3 linked regions of the Homo sapiens genome follow. The protein of the gene in region 1 purifies or fractionates together with the protein of each later gene. This does not show direct contact. Each region holds a gene or a part of one and is shown in the gene's direction. Other genes may lie near its edges.

The links.
Region 2: the proteins of KSR1 (region 1) and BRAF purify together in Homo sapiens (affinity purification with western blotting; 2 studies listed by BioGRID and IntAct, with this or other methods). This does not show direct contact.
Region 3: the proteins of KSR1 (region 1) and LIMA1 purify together in Homo sapiens (affinity purification with mass spectrometry; 2 studies listed by BioGRID and IntAct, with this or other methods). This does not show direct contact.

What each region holds. Positions count from the first base shown.
Region 1 is NC_000017.11:27,606,429-27,613,539, forward strand, and holds part of KSR1 (kinase suppressor of Ras 1), read left to right. Parts: intron 1-1,485; coding exon 1,486-1,582; intron 1,583-2,767; coding exon 2,768-2,901; intron 2,902-3,638; coding exon 3,639-3,770; intron 3,771-4,421; exon of another isoform or gene 4,422-4,949; intron 4,950-5,065; coding exon 5,066-5,201; intron 5,202-7,111.
Region 2 is NC_000007.14:140,914,826-140,921,936, reverse strand, and holds part of BRAF (serine/threonine-protein kinase B-raf), read left to right. Parts: intron 1-7,111. UniProt on the Homo sapiens protein: Protein kinase involved in the transduction of mitogenic signals from the cell membrane to the nucleus. Phosphorylates MAP2K1, and thereby activates the MAP kinase signal transduction pathway. Phosphorylates PFKFB2.
Region 3 is NC_000012.12:50,273,438-50,280,548, reverse strand, and holds part of LIMA1 (LIM domain and actin-binding protein 1), read left to right. Parts: intron 1-7,111. UniProt on the Homo sapiens protein: Actin-binding protein involved in actin cytoskeleton regulation and dynamics. Increases the number and size of actin stress fibers and inhibits membrane ruffling. Inhibits actin filament depolymerization.

The sequences.
Region 1 (7,111 bases):
TTAAACTGTTTATTCCTTTTTGTAAAAATACAAAGGAGAGATCATGCTGGCTCACACCTTGCCTCCTGCACCCGATTGTGGGTCTGAGGTCTACTCTCTTCTAACACCTGCACAGTATCCCCATCACGTAGGCTGAACCCAGTGGTGTGCTGGTAAATGTGTAACAACCAGTTTTGGGGCAGTATGGAGGGAAGCCCTAATTTATAACATCCATCACTTCCTGTGGTGTAAATACTCTCACCATGGTCAATTTCAGACTACCAATGTTATCTCCTGGAGTGGAGTAGAGTTGGGAAGAGTTGTATAATCAAGAGCTGATCACTGGTGGTCCCGTAATTTATTTACAGAACAAGACTCCATCTCAAAAAAAAAAAAAAAGTAGTTAATGAAAAACAAAACAGGTAATTAATTAATGATAAACTAGACAGGGTCTCGCTCTGTCACCCAGGCTGGAGTGCAGTGGCGTGTTCTTGGCTCACTGCAACCTCTGCCTCCCAGGCTCAAGCAATTTTCGTGCCTCAGCCTCCCAAGTAGCTGGGATTACAGCCGTGTGCCACCACGCCTCGCTAATTTTTATATTTTCAGTAAAGATGAGGTTTCACCGTGTTGGCCAGGCTGGTCTCAAACTCTTGACCTGAGGTGATCCGCCCACCTCAGCCTCCCAAAGTGCTGAGATTACAGGCGTGAGCCACTGTGGCCTGCCTGAAACAGGAAAATATTCATTAACAAAAAAATCTTACTTTGTTTAGAATACGCTGAAGAAAAGTGGGACACAGATAAGGAAATCACCAACCAATATTCTCTACCCCTTGCCTGGTTTTCAAAGGCTCTGAGACTCCAAGAATATTTTCCTAAAAACATAGTCCCTTCCTAAGATAGCTCCCTTGGACCCACATTCTCTCTGGGTCCCTCCTCACCCGGGGTTTTAGGAGTTGATGCAGGTGGCGACCCCAGAACTGAAGCTCCTTTTCCAGTAGTCACCTTGACGCCCCTAACATCTACCCCACCCCCTTTCCCTCCTTGCACACTCCTTTATTGTAATAAAAACCCTGTGATCAAGAAAAAATGAAAACTATAATGAGATTCTTGACAGTGAGCCCCAGAGCCTTGATGTTGCCTGTTGATGCCCTTAAATTAGCCAAGTTCTTCCCCATCAGAGTGGTCCTGCCTTGAACCCACCAAGCATGGCTACTCTGAGTTCCTGAGAGCTTTGATGCACTGTTTCCTGTTGTAGGATGGGCAGGCACTGGCTCTCAGGGAATGGGGGTTTGTGTGCGTGTACGTGTGTGGTGTCATGTGTTTCTGCACGTTCAGGCCAGGCCCCAGCAGGACTGGGCTGGGTTAAAGAAGATTTGGCTCACAGTCGAGGGGCTGGAGAGAGTCCTTGCAGGCAGACGGGCACAGTTCTCCCCATGGGCTCCACCAGGGTTGGGGTCAGGCCGCACCAGCCCCAGACTTGTGCTTGACCCCCACCACCCTCGACAGCTTCTGCAAGGGGCGGACGTTGCACTCGTTTGTGAGGGACCCCAAGACGTCTCTGGACATCAACAAGACGAGGCAAATCGCTCAGGAGATCATCAAGGTGAGGGGGTGCCCAGCTGCTGGGGGTGGGTTTCTGGCCGGTTCCAGGGCTCTCGGCTGTTCCTCTCGCCCTGTTACTCCCTGTTAGGGTGGTTTGGGCAGCTTTGCCTCTCCTTCTAGCTCAGGCTCCTCAAGGGTGGGACCCCATCTCTTCCTCCCTGTCTCTGTCTCATTCATTCAGAGCTGGGAGCTGATTGTCCACATGATTAGGCTTGATGGAATTGACTTGGTTGGGAAGGAACTTGGCAGGCTTTAGAGGCCAGTTTCAATCCTGGTCACACCCTTTGTGTGACCTTGGGTAGGTTTAGCCTCTCTAAGCCTCAGTTTTCTCCCCTGTAAAATGGGGATCTTCATATATCCTCCCTCTCTGGATTGGTGTGAGGTTAAAAACGCGATAATCCATGCTGTGGGGTACACAGGAGCCCTGGGTCTGGTGTTTGAAGACAGCTTGACCTTGGATGAGATCATGCCTATGTCAGGTCACCCACGCTCCATGCACCTGACTCATCAGTGTTAGTTCAAATAGAGCATTGGTTAGAAATCACCCACTGCCACCTCTTCGCTTGATAGGTGAGGAAACCAGTCTTCAGAGAAGTTGAGCACTGTGTCCAAGGCCACAGAGTGAGTGAGAATCTGAGCTGAGATGGAGTTCAAACCCCAGATTTCTTAGTCCAGGGCTCCTTCTACTACAGCTCAGACATTAGGAGCACTCAAAGTTGGGGACCCCGCTGTGGGAATGCCTCTCTGTTCCCCCACCTTGAGCCCTTGTCCTGCCTGAGAGCACAGACCAGCTGTGCATATCCTGACAGAAAACCCCAGCTCATTTAGGCCCTTTATGACTGTACACTGATAAATCTCACTGTCCCTGACCCCCCGGCTCCCTGCCCATCACCCTGTTCACACCTCCTACCTTAGCCAAGGTTAACATGGTTGTTTAGAAGCATGGTAACATTAAAAGAGCATAGACCGGTCTGGGATCAGATCTCAGCTCTGCTTCTTCACTGCTGTGTGGCTTGGAGCAAGTGACTTTCCCTCTCTGAACCTCGATTTCTTCTTCTGTAAAATGGGGACAATATACTGCATGGAATTGTGAAGATCAAATATGGGGATTTAGGTAAATCATCCAGCCCAGGGTGGCACCTCCGTCATCGTTGCACATCTTCACTCCTCCTGATGTGTCCTCCAGGGCATGGGATATCTTCATGCCAAGGGCATCGTACACAAAGATCTCAAATCTAAGAACGTCTTCTATGACAACGGCAAGGTGGTCATCACAGACTTCGGGCTGTTTGGGATCTCAGGCGTGGTCCGAGAGGGACGGTGAGTTGGTCTTGAGTGTCTGGGTGGGTTGTGGGTGCTGGATGGGGAAGAGCAGGGCTGAGGTCTGGGCACTTTCACTGTTTGTTGCTGAGCTGCAGCCCTCCCTGCAGGGAAGCCCAGGTCGCTTTGGTCCTGCCCTCGTAGTTCTGGTTCAGAATCAGATTTGGGTCGCGTTTGGATTCTCAGGCCGACTTCCACGGAAACCAGGTCCCCACACTCACATTTGCCCTGGCTGTTCACCCGCTTGGCCAAGGAACCAGGTCATTTCCCCACGATGAGGAAGAGTGTCAAATTTTATTTCCCCAAATCTTGAAGGGATTGGCATAGGGAGAAAGGCCCCTCCCCTCACATCTAGGGGAACCCAAAAGGGAGCATGGCAGCAAGGCTGCAAGGCCAGCCCCAGCCAAGTTTGAGATCCACAGGCAGATCAGGGTTCCTGGTTAGAGAGGCGCCTCATTCTCCAGCAGAGGGAGCTGGGCACCTTCACCAGCAGCTCCCTGTCAATATTTATCCATTCTTGCCCTGCTTTTCTAGAAACAACCGGTCATGACTCCTTTGTAGAATTCCTCAAAAGCACCGGTGCCTTTCCCAAGTGCAGGGTCAGTGTTCTGGGTCTGGGTGTGTTTTCTAAGCTGTGTGTGGGTGTTCTGCCGGCCCTGGGGCAGACCTGTGCCAGGCAGGCCTCTTTGCTGCCTGCTGAAAGGCCTGTGTCCTTGTCCCGGCTTCCTGGTCTCCAGGCGTGAGAACCAGCTAAAGCTGTCCCACGACTGGCTGTGCTATCTGGCCCCTGAGATTGTACGCGAGATGACCCCCGGGAAGGACGAGGATCAGCTGCCATTCTCCAAAGCTGCTGATGTCTATGCATTTGGGTGAGTAGGCCCCTGGTGCCCTGAGGCCAAGTGTGGCCAAAACAGAGGGCCCTGGTGGCCATTGGGGGCAGAGGGAGGCATGCTTTTAGGTGTTGAAAACCCAGGCTCTGGAGTAAAAAATCAACCTTGAGTCCTGGCTCTGCCGCTTGTTGAGTGCATGGTCTTGAGTCCTGGCTCTGCCGCTTGTTGAGTGCATGACTATATCCTTGACCTGGAATAGCTCCTCCCAACAAGGTCATTTCATGAGGACTAAATCAGGTAATTGTGTGCAGTGCTTAACACTGGCTGTCAGCCCCACCCAGCTGATCTGGGAGGATGCTCACCAGAGCTGACCAAGAACTGCTCCTCCCAGTCTGGGGGAGCTGGATATCCTGCCGGCTCTGCTACCCCACAAAGACCTGGGTGCTGACCAGTAGCAATATAATGTGAGCCCGATATAGAAGTTAAAGTTTTCTAATAGCCACATTAAAAAAGAAATGGATGAAATTAGTTTCCCCTGTTTATGTTTTATATATTATAAAACGATATATTTTATTTAACTCAATATATCCAAAATATTATTTCAACATGTAATCAATATACAAATTAATAAGATATTTTATATTCTTTTTTCCTACTAAGTCTTTAAAATCTGGTGTGTTTTCTGCCTAGAGCACCCCTCCATTCAACTGTGCACATTTCAGTCACTCAGTAGCCCCCCTGTGGCAAGAGGCTCCCACATTGGACAGTGTGGGTCTGATGGAGAAAGTCCCATCCCAAGTGAAGAAAGCCAAGGGGACGTAGAGAGGCCAAGGAAGGCTCACCACCCCGGTCACCTGTGCTGTATCTGGGTATCCTTCCCAGTGGGGTGGCCTTGGCGCCATCCTTCCTCCCTGACCTTTAACTGTATCCTTTCCTGAGCACCCATGTGTGCCAGGTGCTGGGCTTGGCAATTTAGTACTCCTCAAACAACCCTGTGACAAGAGACATTAGCCCCACTGAGGTGAAGCAGTTTTACTGGGATCTTGCAGCTAGAAGGTGGCAGAGCTGGATTTGTGCTGAGGTCAGAATGACCACCAAGGCTCCGGTCAAACCTGCGCTGTCTCAGACTTCCCACCCAACGAGAGCACAGGGCCCAGGTCCTCTAGGGCTGGGAGGAGCCTCCAGGAGCCCACTGTAGCATCCCCTGAAGCCAAGTGGGTGAGGAAGGCTGGAGAAGGGTCCTGATCCTCTGGCTGGGCTATGGCTCAAGGGCCCCTGGGCTTGAGCTGGGCACAGCGGCCCAGGAGCTCACAGACATGGCTGGGTCTCTGCAGGACTGTTTGGTATGAGCTGCAAGCAAGAGACTGGCCCTTGAAGAACCAGGCTGCAGAGGCATCCATCTGGCAGATTGGAAGCGGGGAAGGAATGAAGCGTGTCCTGACTTCTGTCAGCTTGGGGAAGGAAGTCAGTGTAAGTAGTACCTGCCCTGGGTGGAGCAGTAGGGCTGGAGGTGGGGTGGGGCATGTGGCATGGCTGCCCTTCACTCACCCACCTGAGAAATGGGGTCGGTGAGGAGCTCTGCCACCTGCACGTGTCTAGCTAGAGATGAAAATGATATGCATTGCCCGGGAATGGGGAAGGAACAGGGAGGCATAAATAAGAAAATATCTATCCTCACCCCACTGCTCACCCTTTTCATTCCTTTCAGTCTTTTTTTTTTCTTAAAGATAATGGTTTTCATTGATTTATGAGATGAAAAGAAAGTAAAGCCCCATGTTATTTACATGAAAGAAGATAATTTTTTTTAAAAAAATCACTGCTGAAAATACAAATAGTTGTGCTATGCTGTGGTATTAAATCTTTCCTCATAATGTTTTTCTTGACTATTAAGAACAAATCAAAGTTTCCACAGCAAACTTGTTTTCAAAAAACCAAGTCTTAATTATAGTGGCCGACTTCTCATTTCTACATGGTTTCTCCTTAATGGATTCTCTGTGTTTGTAAGTTTTGTCAGGCTAAATAAGAGAGAGAGGCTCTCAAAAGATGTTTATTTGGAAATAGAGCGTTGCACTGGGAATATGCATGCCATGGTGAATGGCTTGCTTATTCAGGGAGGTAAAGGAAAAAATGAAGAGGATTACACAATTATTTTGACATATTTAGTAGTTTTCCCTGGCTACAGAGATGAGTAACAAGAGTGATGTCAGTCCAAGGTTAGACAGGTTGTTTGAGGCAGATGTCCTTGTAGGAGTATTTTTGTATAAGGTTGCCATGGCCTTCGTACAAGGTTGCAGTTTTTGCAGTCTTTAGTGGTAGTTTTTGTTATCAGACATACAAGCCCAAGAAGCCTCTCTTCATGGCTTTCCCAGGCCCGATTTGTCAGAGTTTTCTTCACATTTGTGACTCTCTTTTGATTCTGACAGCTTTCAGTTTCCTTTATCACAGCACAGTGATATATAAAGAAACTCCAGGGCTTGGTGTTTTCAGTGCCATCAGTGATAGCCATGTGTCCATGAATCAGATAGGATTGGGACAGAACAGCCTTGATGTTAATAAGCAACTCCAGTCAGTATTTGGGCAGCATAACAATTGAAGTCTTCAGAGGGACCACCCAGCACTTGTCCAGGCTAAGATACAAACAGGCTGTGAGCTTCTTGTTAAGGTCATGAACATTGCTGGCAGGATCACTGTCTGTCTGCAGACTCTGTCTGCAAATTTGCAGTGATGAATTCAACCTCATCGTCCTCCAAGTTCTTAATAGATGGTAATATTTTTCTCAATTGACTGGTGGCAAGCAGCTAGGGCGTCTTCAGAAGGCTCACTCAAGATGACATTATATCTGATCTACTTTATTCCACAGTAGTATATGTCATCTTGTTGAAGTGCAAAATATTTGTACGGGGATGCCCCTCCAAAGATGACACCAAAATGCTATTTAACAACACGAACAGCAGGCTCCTCTTTGGCCAGTTGATACCATTTCATCTGGGGTGCTGGGCAAGGGCCATGGGTGATGAGCACTTCTCTGACACTCTGAGGCCCGTCCTTCTTGGCCTCCTTCTGGGCCAGGGCCAGTTAAACACCACCTTCACCTTGGTGCATCCTCGGGTGCCTTAGGAGCGTGTGGTGGTGATGCAGAATTTTTTGCTCCTTAGCTCAGCTAAAATCCAGGTTCTTGTCTCATGACCAGGAAAAATTAGGCATGCGGACACATTGAAAGGTGAGGAGAGTGGAATTCATTAAAAGAAACCTCTCAGCAAAAAAGAGGGGGTCCTCCCAACAGGCTCCCATCTCACAGATTGAATATCAGGCCACCACACACGAGCTGAAGAGGCCAGGCTCCTCCCCTGCATAAGGCGCGAATTCCTGGTGGCTCCACC
Region 2 (7,111 bases), on another chromosome or scaffold:
TTCCTTACATTCACTTAAAGGGATCTTTTACTGCAAATTACATGGAAAGAATGAAAAGGTTTGCTTGTGTGTAATGACACATTTTATTCTGAAGATTTATTTTACCTAACAGTAAAATGTAGGTTTTTTTTTTTTAAATAAAAGTTTCCCAGAGGGAAATTTCATCTAAAAAAAAAGTCTGATTTCAAAGGGAAAGCAAGTCATTATCAAAAATTAGAAAACTATAAGTACAAAAAGTAAAAAATCATCAGTAATTTTGCCACTAAGATATTATTACTATAGACATTTTGGTGTATTCCATCTGTTCTTTTTTAATGCTTTTATAACACTATGTAGTTTTGTATTTTAAAAAACTTAAAGCAAAAATTTCTACGTATTATTAGACATACTGTGATTTATTTAACTAATCATTTTTTTGGGGTGTTAGGTTGTTTTTAATTTTTTACTGCCATCAAACATCTTGAACATAGGATGTAGATTTTAGTCTTTAAAATATGTTGGGGAATGAACAAATTTCACATCCTGTATTTGTAGTATTAATACTTTGTAGGTGCTCAAAATAGAATATTCTGGTAAATGATTAGTGCTTATTAAATATTTATCAAATGAATGTACTTGTACTTTTGGCATTAAACATTAACATCTGACCATTTATATTTACCTGATTTTTTTTCTATGGCCATATGGTATGAAATAGTGTATGGTATAAATTAACCATATGGTATAATAAATACATTTTTTTAAGTGTGATACCAGAGTGATATTTATTAACTGTTCTTCCTGTGCTGTTTCTGTAGAAGGGAGCTTCTCACAATTGCATTAGAATTACAATTTTATTATGTTCTGTTTTCAAGATCTCTGATCGTCAGTCTTAAACTGTTTAATTATAATAATGTATTGACTAGGGAATATTCTGGGATATAATCTCCTTTATAATGAGGTCCACTGTATTAAAATACATCTTTGCAAGCCACACCAGGTTGGATTGCATCATAACCCTGAAAAGTGGTATTCTCATTAATGCAGGTGCTTGTGCAGTTTTGGCTATTGCTGTTAATACTTATACAGATATATTCACAGGTGCCCTTGTGGCAAAAATCATAAAATAGTTGTTTGTCTTTGGTATTTCTAGTGTTCACTTTCTATATTCTTTTCTCTCTCCTTATTTACTGAACTCCCTTCTTTAGGCATCCACTCACTCCTTTTTCTGTTTAGAATATTATCTGTCAGTCATTTTATATGTTGGCCATTAAAGGAATAAACTGTCAGTAAACAGCTAAGAAAGGAATGTTGGACTGGGTGCTTGAATCCTTGAATGTAGTAAATGTGAGTGCAAACTTGATTTAATTGTACATGTATTTGGATAATAGGCCAGAAAAATTACATTAGGGTAACAGGCTAGAACAGTCTGACTTTTCTTGTTTTTCTATCCCTTGCTTTCTTGATTAGAATGAATAGGAGGTGGGTCTGGATATAGCAGCTGGAAACCTGTGTTCCATGAGTGATGGGGAAGAGAGGGAGGGAATAGGTTCCTCTGATTTTTGGCATTTTCTAAGACCTGATGCCCACCTTGTCAGAGAATGCGATGACTACTTTTGTGTTCTTCCTTTTCCCTTTTTCTCCCAATTATAAAATTGTTTTCTCTTTCAGAACTGCAGAAGTGCATTTTGTTTCTTTGACACTTTGATGTTGTTAATTTAGCTGAATACCTAGTGAACATTTTGTGTCATAATCCCCTTGTTTTATGAAATCCAGTATGGTCTAGTCACCTTACATTTCTGCCTCATATTGTCCTTAAGCCTTTTTTTGTCAGTAGCTCTTACTAGATTTTGTCTTCATCAGAAGTTAAAGTGTTTTAAGTCCTTTACTCATTCTGTTTCTCTATTTTAACTTACATTGGTTATTCTGTAAAGTCAGATGTGGCAGTAGGGCTGGTCGTGGTGGCTCACACCTGTAGTCCCAGCTACTTGGGAAGCTGAGATGGGAGCATCACTTGAGCCCTGAAGTTCGAGGCTGCAGTGAGCCATGATCGCACCACTGCACTCTAGCCTGGCAACAGAGTGAGACCCTGCCTCAAAACAAACAAACAAACAAACAAAAAAAAAACAAAAAAACTTGCTTGTAGAACTTCTGAATTCAAAATAGGTGGGCCTATTTGGGAGCTTTTCTGTTTTTAAGGTGTCAAGTACTGCTTTTTAAAATCATAAGGTTATGGATAACTTCATGTTAGTGTAAGAAGAAAAATATAGCCTCATTTGTTCCATTTCTTTCTTAAATTTTTTGTTTTCATTGCCATGTTTTTATTTTTCGATTTCAATTTTTCCAGCCTAAATCACTAACATACTTAATTAGCATGGTAATCAGAAGATACTCTTTAATACAGTCTCCACCCTAACATTAAGCAATTATTTTTCCCCCCTACCCTCTGAGATTATTTTTGTGTCCATGTTTTCTCTTGGGCTTAAAAAAAAAAACTATTATTCTAATTCCTTCCTGTATCAAGACTATGCATATAGAGGGAACTCAATGCCCAGTAACTTCTTTTTCTGGGCCCTGGTGATGTAGAATATAAAAATTGCTTTGAACTCAATTAACTTTATATCTTCTGGAAGCTCTGTAACATCGGATAAAGCGTCGTTTTCATTCTTGTAATGTAGCTGCAGTTCCTGACAGCACGTTTGGGACAAATGTACTGTGGGACGGTGGTTTTCAAAGTACGCCAGAGCTCTAGGAGAATTTTTCGAAAACATTCTATCATTGTAAATAATAATTTTTTTTTTTTTTTTTTTTGAGACGGAGTCTCGCTCTGTCTCGCAGACTGGAGTGCAGTGGCGCGATCTCAGCTCACTGCAAGCTCTGCCTCCCGGGTTCACGCCTTTCTGCCTTTCTCCTGCCTCAGCCTCCCCAGTAGCTGGGACTACAGGCGCCTGCCACCACGCCCAGCTAATTTTTTGTATTTTTAGTAGAGACGGGGTTTCACCGTGTTGGCCAGGATGGTCTCAATCTCCTGACCTCGTGATCTGCCCGCCTCAGCCTCCCAAAGTGCTGGGATTACAGGCGTGAGCCACCACACCTGGCCAGAATAAAAATTCCAAATTGCACTAATGCATATGTGAAACTGTTTTTGTCTGTTTTGTAGTTTTAAAATCTTCATCTATAATAGTACCTGGCACATAGGTACTAAAATATTTGGTGAAAGAATTAGTGAATAAAACCTTACTGGATATGAGGTGATCTGATTTTCTGTAACATTCTATTCTTTTTTTCTGCCGGTCACAAAATCACCTTATGAAATTGACAGCCAAATTGGCTGCAACAGGCAGTTTGAAAAACACTGTTTTGGGGTTTCAAGGACCTTCTTCAGAGGTTACCCCAGGGCTCTGTTTAGTGCCTCTATACCAGGGGCCCCCAACCCCTGGGCCACAGCCTCGTATCTACCAGTCCGTGACCTGTTAGGAACCTGACTACACCGCAGGAGGTGAGTGGCAGGCAAGTGAGCATTACCGCCAAAGCTCCACCTCCTGTCAGATCAGCGGCAGGAGCGTGAACCCTATCAGAAACTGTGCATGTGAGGGATCTAGATTGTGTGCTTCTTGTGAGAATCTAATGCCTGATGATCTGAGGTGGAACAATTTCATCCTGAAACCCCCTCTACCCCTGTCCATGGAAAAATTGTCTTCCATGAAATTGGTCACTGGTCCCAAAAAGGTTGGGGAGTGCTGCCCTATACCATAACTATTGAAGTTCTTCATTTATCTGCTTTACATGTTAGTTTCCTTGAAAAAAGGGTTTTATGGCTGTAAAAATTTTAGAGCTACTATGTATGGAAGAGAGGTTTGTGCTGGCATAAATCTTCTCAGGTATCATCTGTGTAGAAAATTTCAACAACTTGTGTCTTAAGGCAGAGGTCAGCAATCTTAAGGGTCAGATGGCAAATATTTTAGGCATTGTGGGACATACAGTTCCTCTCACAATTCCTCAACAATACTGTAGTAGCTCAGAAGTAGCTAATAGACAATATTTAAACAAATGAGTTTGACTCTGTTCCAGTAGTCATTTTCAGGACACTGAAATTTGAATTTCATATCATTTTCATGTGTCATGAAAATCTTCTTTTGATTTTTTTTCTACCACTTAAACATGTAAAAAGTATTCTTAGCTTGTGAGCTATACAAAAGCAGATAGTGGGCCAGTTCATGGGCTGAACTGTTCTGACTCCTGGTCTAAGGGAGACTATATATGTTATATTTGAGGTTCTCAAAGTAAGATGTAGGTTAGAGGTCTATAGAAAGTTCATAATTGCTTTTGTAAAAACTAGATTGATTTATTTGAGAGGGAGAGAGAGGTGGAGTTTCACTGTATTGCCCAGGCTGGACTTGAACTCTGGGCTCAAGCAATCTTCCAGCCTCAGCCTCCCAAGTAGCTAGGACTACAGGCATGCACCAAGCCCAGCTCCTAGTTCCTCTTTGCACTCAGTTTCATCTTCTACCCTCAGCCCCTGGCAAACACTGGTCTGATCTCTGTGCCCTTTCCAGAAAGTCATATAAATGGAGTCATATAAAAGTCATATCAGTGGGGCCGGGCATGGTGGCTCACACCTGTAATTTCAGCACTTTGGGAGGCTGAGGAGGGCAGATCACCTGAGGTCAGGAGTTTGAGACTGGCCTGGCCAACATGGTGAAACCCCCTCTCTACTAAAAATACAAAAATTAGCCGAGCATGGTGGTGGGCACCTGCAATCCCAGCTACCTGGGAGGCTGAGGCAGGAGAAACACTTGAACCCGGGAGAGGGAGGTTGTAGTGAGCCGAGATCGCGTCATTGCACTCCAGCAATTGTGAAGCAGTGGTTAAGGTTCATTCATTATTTTACATATGGATGTCCAGTTGTTTCACATTTATCAAATTTCTTTTGAATCACCTTGGCACTTTTATTGAAATCAATTGCTTATGTTTGTGAGTTTTGGATTCTACTGTTTTATTGATCTGTGTGTGTTTTCTTAGGCTAATACCCCACTACCTTAGTTATGATAGCTTTATAGTTAAATTTAAAATCAGGTAGGTCCAGTTGAGAAGATTTTTAGAACTTTGACTTTTTAATTTCTTGTTACCATACTTTTGGAAGGAGAAGACTCATAATTTTATTCAGGTTTTCAAAGGTGTCTTCTACCCCCAAATACTTAAGACTTCAGTATATAGTTAATATATCTCTGTCTTGAATTATGTGGTGGTGAGGTTCATGAAAAGTGACAGGTAAAAGTTGCAACCAAAATTAATTTCCTTATAAGAAAGGACATATTTTAGTAGGTTGCACAGAAAAGTCAATCACGTCCTTTTTACCGTGTTGCATTATGAGGTGTAATCAAAATGTGTATAGGGGAAAATGAATATGTTAAGATGTTTATTCACCAAAAAAAGTCACCGAAAGTGTCAATTAGGTTGTGAAAGATACTAGTTTACAATGTGTTATTCTCCATCTTCATTAGAAGAGTTCTTCCATTTGAAACCTATGTCATGTTCTGTGATATTTCAGAGTTAGTATCTTTATGAATCTTAGGGGCATCATTAAATCATTATGTTTCTTCTAAGGAAAGGCATATGGTAGTAGTTGGTCATATTTCTACCTTTTTCAGTGGGGCCTATAGGGCCCCTTTACTTTGTTTTAAACTGCACTGATAGCTTTTTACTGGTTAGCCCAGGGAATTATCCCTACAGTGTAAAATGATGTTTCTCATCATGATTTTCATTTAATAATTTAAAAACAAAATAACAGGAAACACATGTTTCTAGAGAGGAAGTGTGGAATACCTGACTAGTAGAGGGTCAGGTGACAATTGCGAAGGTAGAAACTGACTAAGTTTTGACCATGTTGCAAGGAGTATCGTTCCAGTTTTGTTGGGTCACCTTGCAGAGTTTTTAAAAAAAATCCTTGGGTTTTTTTTGTTTGTTTGTTTGTTTGTTTTGGTAGAGATGCTGTGTTGCTCAGGCTAGTCTCGAAATCCTGGGCTCAAGCAGTCCTTCCCAGAGTGCTGGGATTACAGGCATGAGCCACCGCACCCAGCATCACCTTGCCGATTTTGAAACTACACTTCCAGGGAGAGAGTAATACAATATCTTGGCAGACTATTTTTAACTATTGTTCCAAAATTAATCTGTTTTTAAAAAGTAAAGAAGTGTGGATATCTTTAAAAGATACTTTAATTAGGCTGGTCACGGTGGCTCATGCCTGTAATCCCAGCACTTTGGGAGGCCAGGATGGGTGGATCACCTGAGGTCAGGAGTTCGAGACCAACCTGACCAACATGGAGACACTCCGTCTCTACTAAAAATGCAAAAAATTAGCCGGGCATGGTGGCGCATGTCTGTAATCCCAGCTACTTGGGAGGCTGAGGCAGGAGAATTGCTTGAACCTGGGAGGCGGAGGTTGCAGTGAGCCGATATTGCGCCATTGCACTCCAGCCTGGGCAACAAGAGTGAGGGAAACTCCGTGTCAAAAAAAAAAAAAAAGATACTTTAATTATATTTAAGTTGGGGAATACTTTTGTTTTATATTTTTTCTTGCACTAAATATGTAACCTTTAAGTTAATAACACCAGAAAATTTTTACTTTATAGTTTTAGAACTGCTTAATTGAAATAAAATGTTAGGATACTTTGAATTAGTCACTTATTTTGGCATATTTTAAACAGTTTAATGTACTGCTTGGGGTTGTTTCTCAATTGACTTGATATTTTTAAACTGTATTTTTTACCTTGTACCATTTATTTTGCAAAATAAATTTCTATTTTGGCTTATAGATGTATTTTTAATATTAAAGGGGATTATTGGTGTCAGCCATAAAATTGTAATTAAGTCTTAAGTAGGTATGGTTTTTTTTTTTTTTTTTTTTTGGAGACGGAGTCTCGCTCTATCATCCATGCTGGAGTGCAGTGGTGTGATCTCGGCTCATTGCAACCTCCGCCCCCCCCCCCCCCCGGGTTCAAGTGATTCTCCTGCCTCAGCCTCCAGAGTAGCTGGCACTACAGGCGCATGCCACCATGCCCGGCTAATTTTTTTGTATTTTTGGTAGAGATGGGATTTCACCATGTTAGCTAGGATGGTCTCGATCTCCTGA
Region 3 (7,111 bases), on another chromosome or scaffold:
TGTGTCCACTCATAAGAAGTTAACATGATACCATGAAAATTTTACATTCTTTTGATGTTCTTTTAAATAATTTCTTAATACTACTACCCTGGGCCGGGCGCGGTGGCTCACGCCTGTAATCCCAGCACTTTGGGAGGCCGAGGCGGGAGGATCACGAGGTCAGGAGATCGAGACCATCCTAGCTAACATGGTGAAACCCAGTCTCTACTAAAAATACAAAAACAAAATTAGCCGGGCGTGGTGGCAGGCGCCTGTAGTCCTAGCTACTCGGGAGGCTGAGGCGGGAGAATGGCGTGAACCCGGGAGGCGGAGCTTGCAGTGAGCGGAGATCGCGCCACTGCACTCCAGCCTGCGTGACAGAGTGAGACTCCGTCTCAAAAAAAAAAAAAAAAAAAAAAAAAAAATACTACTACCCTGAAACTAAGAACTTTCATCTTTAGGGGAAAAAAAGATGCAACTTTTTTGTACTTCTGATAACAAGTGTGGATCTATTTTCCCCCTTAATTATTCTGTAACAGAGTTTATGATATGGAAAACTTTACAGTCCTTCAAATATGTTTTGTCTTGCACAAAGTATTGCCATTTTTGTTTCATTACCCATAAATTAGTCCCAATATCCGCTTTACTTAGTTTTAGATTTCCACAATCTTTTTTTTCTCCATAAACTGAAATTCAAGCTAATGCCCCGGGACTTCTTTTATTTCATAGTCAGTTTTACTAAACAGGTAACATTTGCTCAGCTTTGGCGTCTGAGCAAAAATTTGGCTTCCAGCACTACAGGAAAGCTGTCTGTCCATGCATAGTATCCAGTGGTTTCTGTCTAACGGTCCTTACCCCTTGGCAATAACTGACCAAGTGAACAACTTGTCTAGTTCTTCCTTTCATTTGCTTTTCTTGACATGACTACTATCTGGTTCTCCATTTTCTAATCTAACCACTTACTCCCATGATCCATTAACTCAGTCTTTTTGCCCCTTAAATGCCGGGTTCACCATAGCCCTGCTCAGCTTCCTATTCTCACTATACTTTCTCCCTTTATAATCTGATTTCTTTCCATGACTTCCACTATCACCTCCATGTAAGTGGCCTGAAAATTTATCTTTTTAAAAAACTTCTTTCATATTGTATATATAATTGTTTTATTTTCATATATGCCAACACATTTAAAAATAAAAATTATAGATATTTATATTATTATAAAATAAAAATTATATATGTTTATTATAGAAAATGTGGAAAAAACAGGCCGGGTGTGATGGCTCATGCCTGTAATCCCAGCACTTTGGGAGGCTGAGGCGGGTGATCACTTGAGGTCAGGAGTTCGAGACCAGCCTGGCCAACATAGTGAAACCCCATCTCTACTAAAAATACAAAAATTAGCTGGGCATGGTGGCGCATGCCTGTAGTCCCAGCTACTAAGGAGGCTGAAGCAGGAGAATCCCTTGAACCCAGGAGGCAGAGGTTGCAGAGAGCCAAGCTCATGCCACTGCACTCCAGCCTGGGTGACAAAGCAAGACTCCATATCAAAAAAAAAAAAAGAAAAGAAAAGAAAAAAAGAAAATGTGGAAAAAACAAATTATAAAGAAGACAAAATAACCCATATTCCATAATCTGTTCCAGAGAGATCTATCATTTGATATATTTCCTTTCAGTGGTTTTGTTTTCTTTGATATACACACACTCACATAAACACAAAGGTAATTGAACTCATACTGTTGCAGTAGATATAGTTTTGTGTCTGCTTTTTTTGCTTTATATTATTTTTCATAGCATCAAAAATTTTTGAAAACATTTAAATGGATATTTAATCTCCATTGTAATCTATTTAATAATTTATTATATTGAGGTTGCATAATTTATTTGTGTTTTGGTTTTACATTAAATGAAAACAATTGAGAACAAATTTATGCATAAATCTTTGTGCAAATGACTCATTATTTCCTTAGGTTAGATTCCCAGAGGTTGAATTACCAGGTCAAGGAGTGTGAAAATTTAAAAATACTAAACCTGCTCCCAAATTGCTTTTTGTAAAGATTAGACTAATTAACATTCTCAACTGCAGTGATTGTGAGTGCCCATCTTAGTGCGGCCTTGGTAACATTGAATATTATTATTATGATGATTTTTGAGATGGAGTCTCGCTCTGTCGCCCAGGCTGGAGTGCAGTGGCACGATCTCTGCTCACTGCAAGCTCCACGTCCCGGGTTCATGCCATTCTCCTGCCTCAGACTCCTGAGTAGCTGGGACTACAGGTGCCCGCCACCACACCTGGCTATTTTTTTTTTTATTTTTAGTAGAGATGGGGTTTCACCGTGTTAGCCAGGATGGTCTCAATCTCCTGACCTTGTGATCCGCCCACCTCGGCCTCCCAAAGTGCTGGGATTACAGGCATGAGCCACCTCGCCCAGCCCGTCTGGCTAATTTTTGTGTTTTTTAGTAGAGACAGGGTTTCACCCTGTTGATCAGGCTGACCTCAAGCCCCTGACCTCAGGAGATCTGCCCACCTCGGCCTCCCAAAGTGCTGGGATTACAGCATGAGCCACCGCGCCCGGCCCGAATATTATTTTTTAATCTTTACTAATTTGATAGGCAGAAATGAATTAATTTGTATTTCTTTGCTAGTGAGAGAGAACATTTTTCATACATTCATTTCTGTTTCTTCTGTGAATTATGTCTGGGTTAATCCCACTCCCATTTTTATTTGGGCGTTAACATTTTAATTATGTTGGTTTTTTGTTTGGTATTCTTTTATTTGGAGCGTTTTGTGGGGGAAGCACAGGCTTTTATTAGACCAAATAGAGTGAATGGAGTGACAAAGTGGAAAGTATACAGAAGTTGGAATTGTGGTGTTATAAATGCCCATTGTTTTGAGGGGCCAGAGCTTGTGATCAATGAAGCAGTACTGCAGAATGGAAAGGGTGCTATTTGAGAGTCAGGATTCCCAACTTAATGTTGTCATCAACCAATCAGGTGATCTTGGACAAGTCATTGATTCATTGACTCAGAGCCTCATCTGTAAAATGAGAGGGTTGGGCTTTTGATCCCCAAGACTGGACAACCTCTGTGCTGAAAGGATGCCTTTGGAGCTACTACTGTTCACTAGACATTCTGGAATTACTTTCTGTCTCATCTCTAACCTTTCACCTAATTTTAGATATATAGAGCCTGAGGAAAGACTGGATGCAGTAAAGGCAGTGTCCACCGGAGTAGCAAGGGGAGCCTGGGGACAGCTTAATTTGTTTGTGCCCTTTAACTTTCAGGAAAATAGAAGTATAAAAAAAAAATTGAATGGGGTTCTTGCTGTGGGGGTTGGGGGAAGAAAAGAAAAAAAAAGAAGTCAAAAAGATTGGTATTTTTTTAGGCACTCCCATAGACTGACACTTGGAAACTGGTAAGATAAAATCACAGAAGCCCTGCTGACCTGTGCCACAAAACTCGATTATCTACAATGTATGTGAAAAATGTCTCATTTTGTGACTAGAGGGTGTACGTCTCCAAGGCAAGTTATTTAACAACTTCTTCTACTTCATACAGAACCATTCTTAGTGTTTTTCTTTGAGATTGGTATAAACTCTTCTAAGAATATTAATTTTTTGTCCTGTGGTCAAATATTTAACCAGTTTGCCTTTTAATTTTGTATATAGTATATTATTACTTATCTATAGATTTTTTTTTTTTTGAGACAGTGTGTCACTCAGTCACCCAGGCTGGAGTGCAGTGGCACAATCTCGGCTCACTCTAGCCTCCTCCTCCAGGGTTCAAGTGATTCTCATGCCTCAGCCTCCCAAGTAGCTGGGATTACAGGCACATGCCACCACGCCTAGCTAATTTTTGTATTTTTAGTAGAGACAGGGTTTCTCCATATTGGCCAGGCTGGTCTTGAACTCCTGACCCAGGTAATCTGCCCGCCTCGGCCTTCCAAAGTGTTACAATTACAGGCGTGAGCCACCACACCCAGCCTGGATTTTTAAATTTGAGATTTCTTCTGGTGCTGTGATGTTTAGAAGGCCTTCACCATCCAGAGATTGGTTAAATACTCACTTTCATTTCCTTCTGATTTTTACCGTTTTACACTTTATATTTAATTCTTTAATTTGTATTGAACTTACTTTGAAGTACCAAACCAATATGTTTAATGCCTTTGTATATCTGAGTTCCAGATCTGTATTTCCAGCTACCTGTTAGGCTATGTGGATAGTCCCTGTACGCCATGCATCTGCGTACACCCAGATTCACTAAGGAGAAAGCTTGAGGTTGTACTTACCACTTTAATACTTTTCTCCACCCACATTTGATCAATCCCCAAGTTTGGCTGATTCTGCCCCAGGGGTGATAAGAGTTCTTTAATCAGTCTTCTAATTCAGATTCCCCTTTTAGTTTTTTGCCAGAGTCCTTGAGTCCTTGAGTAATCCTTAGAGTTGGCTTCAGTTTTTCCCTTGCAGAAAAGTTATCAGAGTTGTCATAAAAAAAAAAAGCACTGATTTTCAAAATATGGTTCCTTTAATTGCCTGTGTTAGAATTACCTGGCAGTGGTTAAAAAGGTAGAGTCTCAGGTCCCACCTAGACCTGCAGATCAGTGTGTCTGAGGGATGGGCCTGGGAACCTGAAGTTTATCAAGTACCTCAAGAGATTTATATACAAACTTAAGGGGAGACAATGCCTAAGTAAATTCAGTCTAGCTTTCTGACATGCTCTTCAAGACACCCACACCCCCACTCTGACAGCCTATTCTTTTAGGCTTATCTCCCACAACACGACCCACCCACCTGGCACTGTGACCCTACAATAATTCTCTGTTTCCTGGACCTGCCCAGTTCTTTCCTGCCTCTGTGCCTTTGCTCATGCAGTTACCACAGCCTCATGCTCCTCCCCTTCCCCACCCTCTTGTTGAAATCCTTTTCCTTAAGAGCCCAAATCAAATGCTACCTTTTTAAATTTTTTTAATAAAAAAAAGCCTTTTCTAATTTCTTCTACTTGAATCAGTGGCTGCCTCCCCAGTCTTTATACTTAACACTTGATTTTTGCTTCATTTCTTACCTTACTTAATGTTGTCACTATTTATAAATTATTGCTTCCTTGTAAGATTACAAGCCTTTTAGGTATGAGAACCTTTCCCTTCCTTTTCATTTTGTGGCCATTATGCACATATAAACAATTAAGAACTCATTTTATTTTATTATTTTGAGACACAGTTTCATTCTGTCCCAGGTTGGAGTGCAATGGCGCAATCTCAGCTCACTGCAACCCCCACCTCCTGGGTTCAGGTGATTCTCATGCCTCAGACCTCCGGAGTAGCTGGGACTACAGGCACGCGCCACCACGCCTGGCTAATTTTGTTTTTTTTTTGTATTATTAGTAGAGACAGGGTTTCACCATGTTGGCCAGGCTGGTCTAGAACTCCTGGCCTCAAGTGATCTGCCCACCTCAGCTTCCCAAAGTGCTGGGATTATAGGCATGAGCCACCGCACCTGGCCAAAGTACTCATTTAGTACATGAAATATATCTGATCTTGCAAACACACTTTTATATAATAATGTTTGGCTTTGTATCACACATAGAATAAAATTAAAATCCTTTAGCATTGTTATTAATCCGTATTTAATCTGACTACTACTCATCTCTGTGTCATCGCATGCTTCTCACTTACTTCCTAGCTGTATTATTCCTTCCTCAGGGCCTTTGCATTTGCTTTCCTCTACCTGGAAAACTCCCCCATCTATTGTCTTCACCTTGCTGGCTGCATATGTTCTCCCCATCATTCAGGTTTCAGTTCAAATGTCATTCACTCAATGAGGCCTTCCCTGATCACTGCCTAAAGAAGCTGTTCGTGTCCCTGTTCCTACCACAACTCCAGTTACTCTTTTTGTATTTCCTTCACACCACTAATCACAGTCTTTAATTGTCCGGCTTCTCCAGTGGAATGGAAATTTCATGAGAGTAGAGACCATGTCTGTCTTTTTTTTTTTTGAGATGGAGCCTCACTCTGTCACCCAGGGTGGAGTGGAATGGCACGATCTTGACTCACTGCAACCTCCAACTCCCAGGTTCAAGAGTCTCCTGCTTCAGCCTCCCAAGTAGCTGGGACTCCAGGCACCTGCCACCACACCCAGCTAAATTTTTTATTTTTGGTAGCGACAGGATTTCACCATGTTGGCCAGGATGGTCTGCATCTCTCGACCTCATTATCCGCCTGCCTTGGCCTCTCAAAGTGCTGGGATTACAGGCGTGAGCCATCGCGCTCGGCCTTGTCTGTCATTTTTAACATTATATCTTCAGCACTTGGAATACTGCCAAAGACTTGGTAAATGCTAAATAAATATTTGTTGAATGAATGAATAAGCCTTGAAGATGGACTTTTCATTTGGACAAGTCTTGTTTTGTTTTGCAATCCAAAGTGTTGTATTTTTTTTAACTGGACAACAGCTGAGGTCGGTCCATCTGGGTTCAAATCAGGTAGCAGTCTCTGAGGAGTTCGGAAGGTAGCAGGACAAAAGTTTGGATACTGTGACAACCAGGATTAAGTTCCATCTGAGTGCAAGTTTTCTAAGGTGTTTCCAGGATCCAGGCCACTATTTTCCTACCACTATAGCCATCTACTTCCCAGATTGTTACTCTGGATTATACTAGTCTATCAACTCCTATTACATTTTCAAAAGCCAGTGTGGCAAAACTAAAACCCAATTACTGGAATCCACAAACAACCAGAAGTTTTCTTCTGTTTTCATTCTCTAGGAGAAAAATTAGAAAGCTATCTAGAATCTTCAAGAAAAAATGAAATGATTTTCATTATACTTACTATTAACACATGCTCTGAAATGTGTTACTGTTTAGACACACTGTTTAGACAGTGTACTGATTAGAAAGATTTTCAGCAACAGCTTTAAACAAAAGGTTTCTTATTAACATCTAGTTGAACCAGACATTATAATGAATTAGTTCTAATTTCTATTTCTTTTCATTGGTTAGTCTTTTTTAATTCCATTTTTTTTCTTAATGCTGGCTTGAAGTTTTATTTAAAATAATGCTTTGTAGAGTAGCTGACAGTTTTCAAAGTACTTTTGCTTTTATCCTTTCATTTAGTCCTCATAAGCATCCTGTGTGAATCAATACC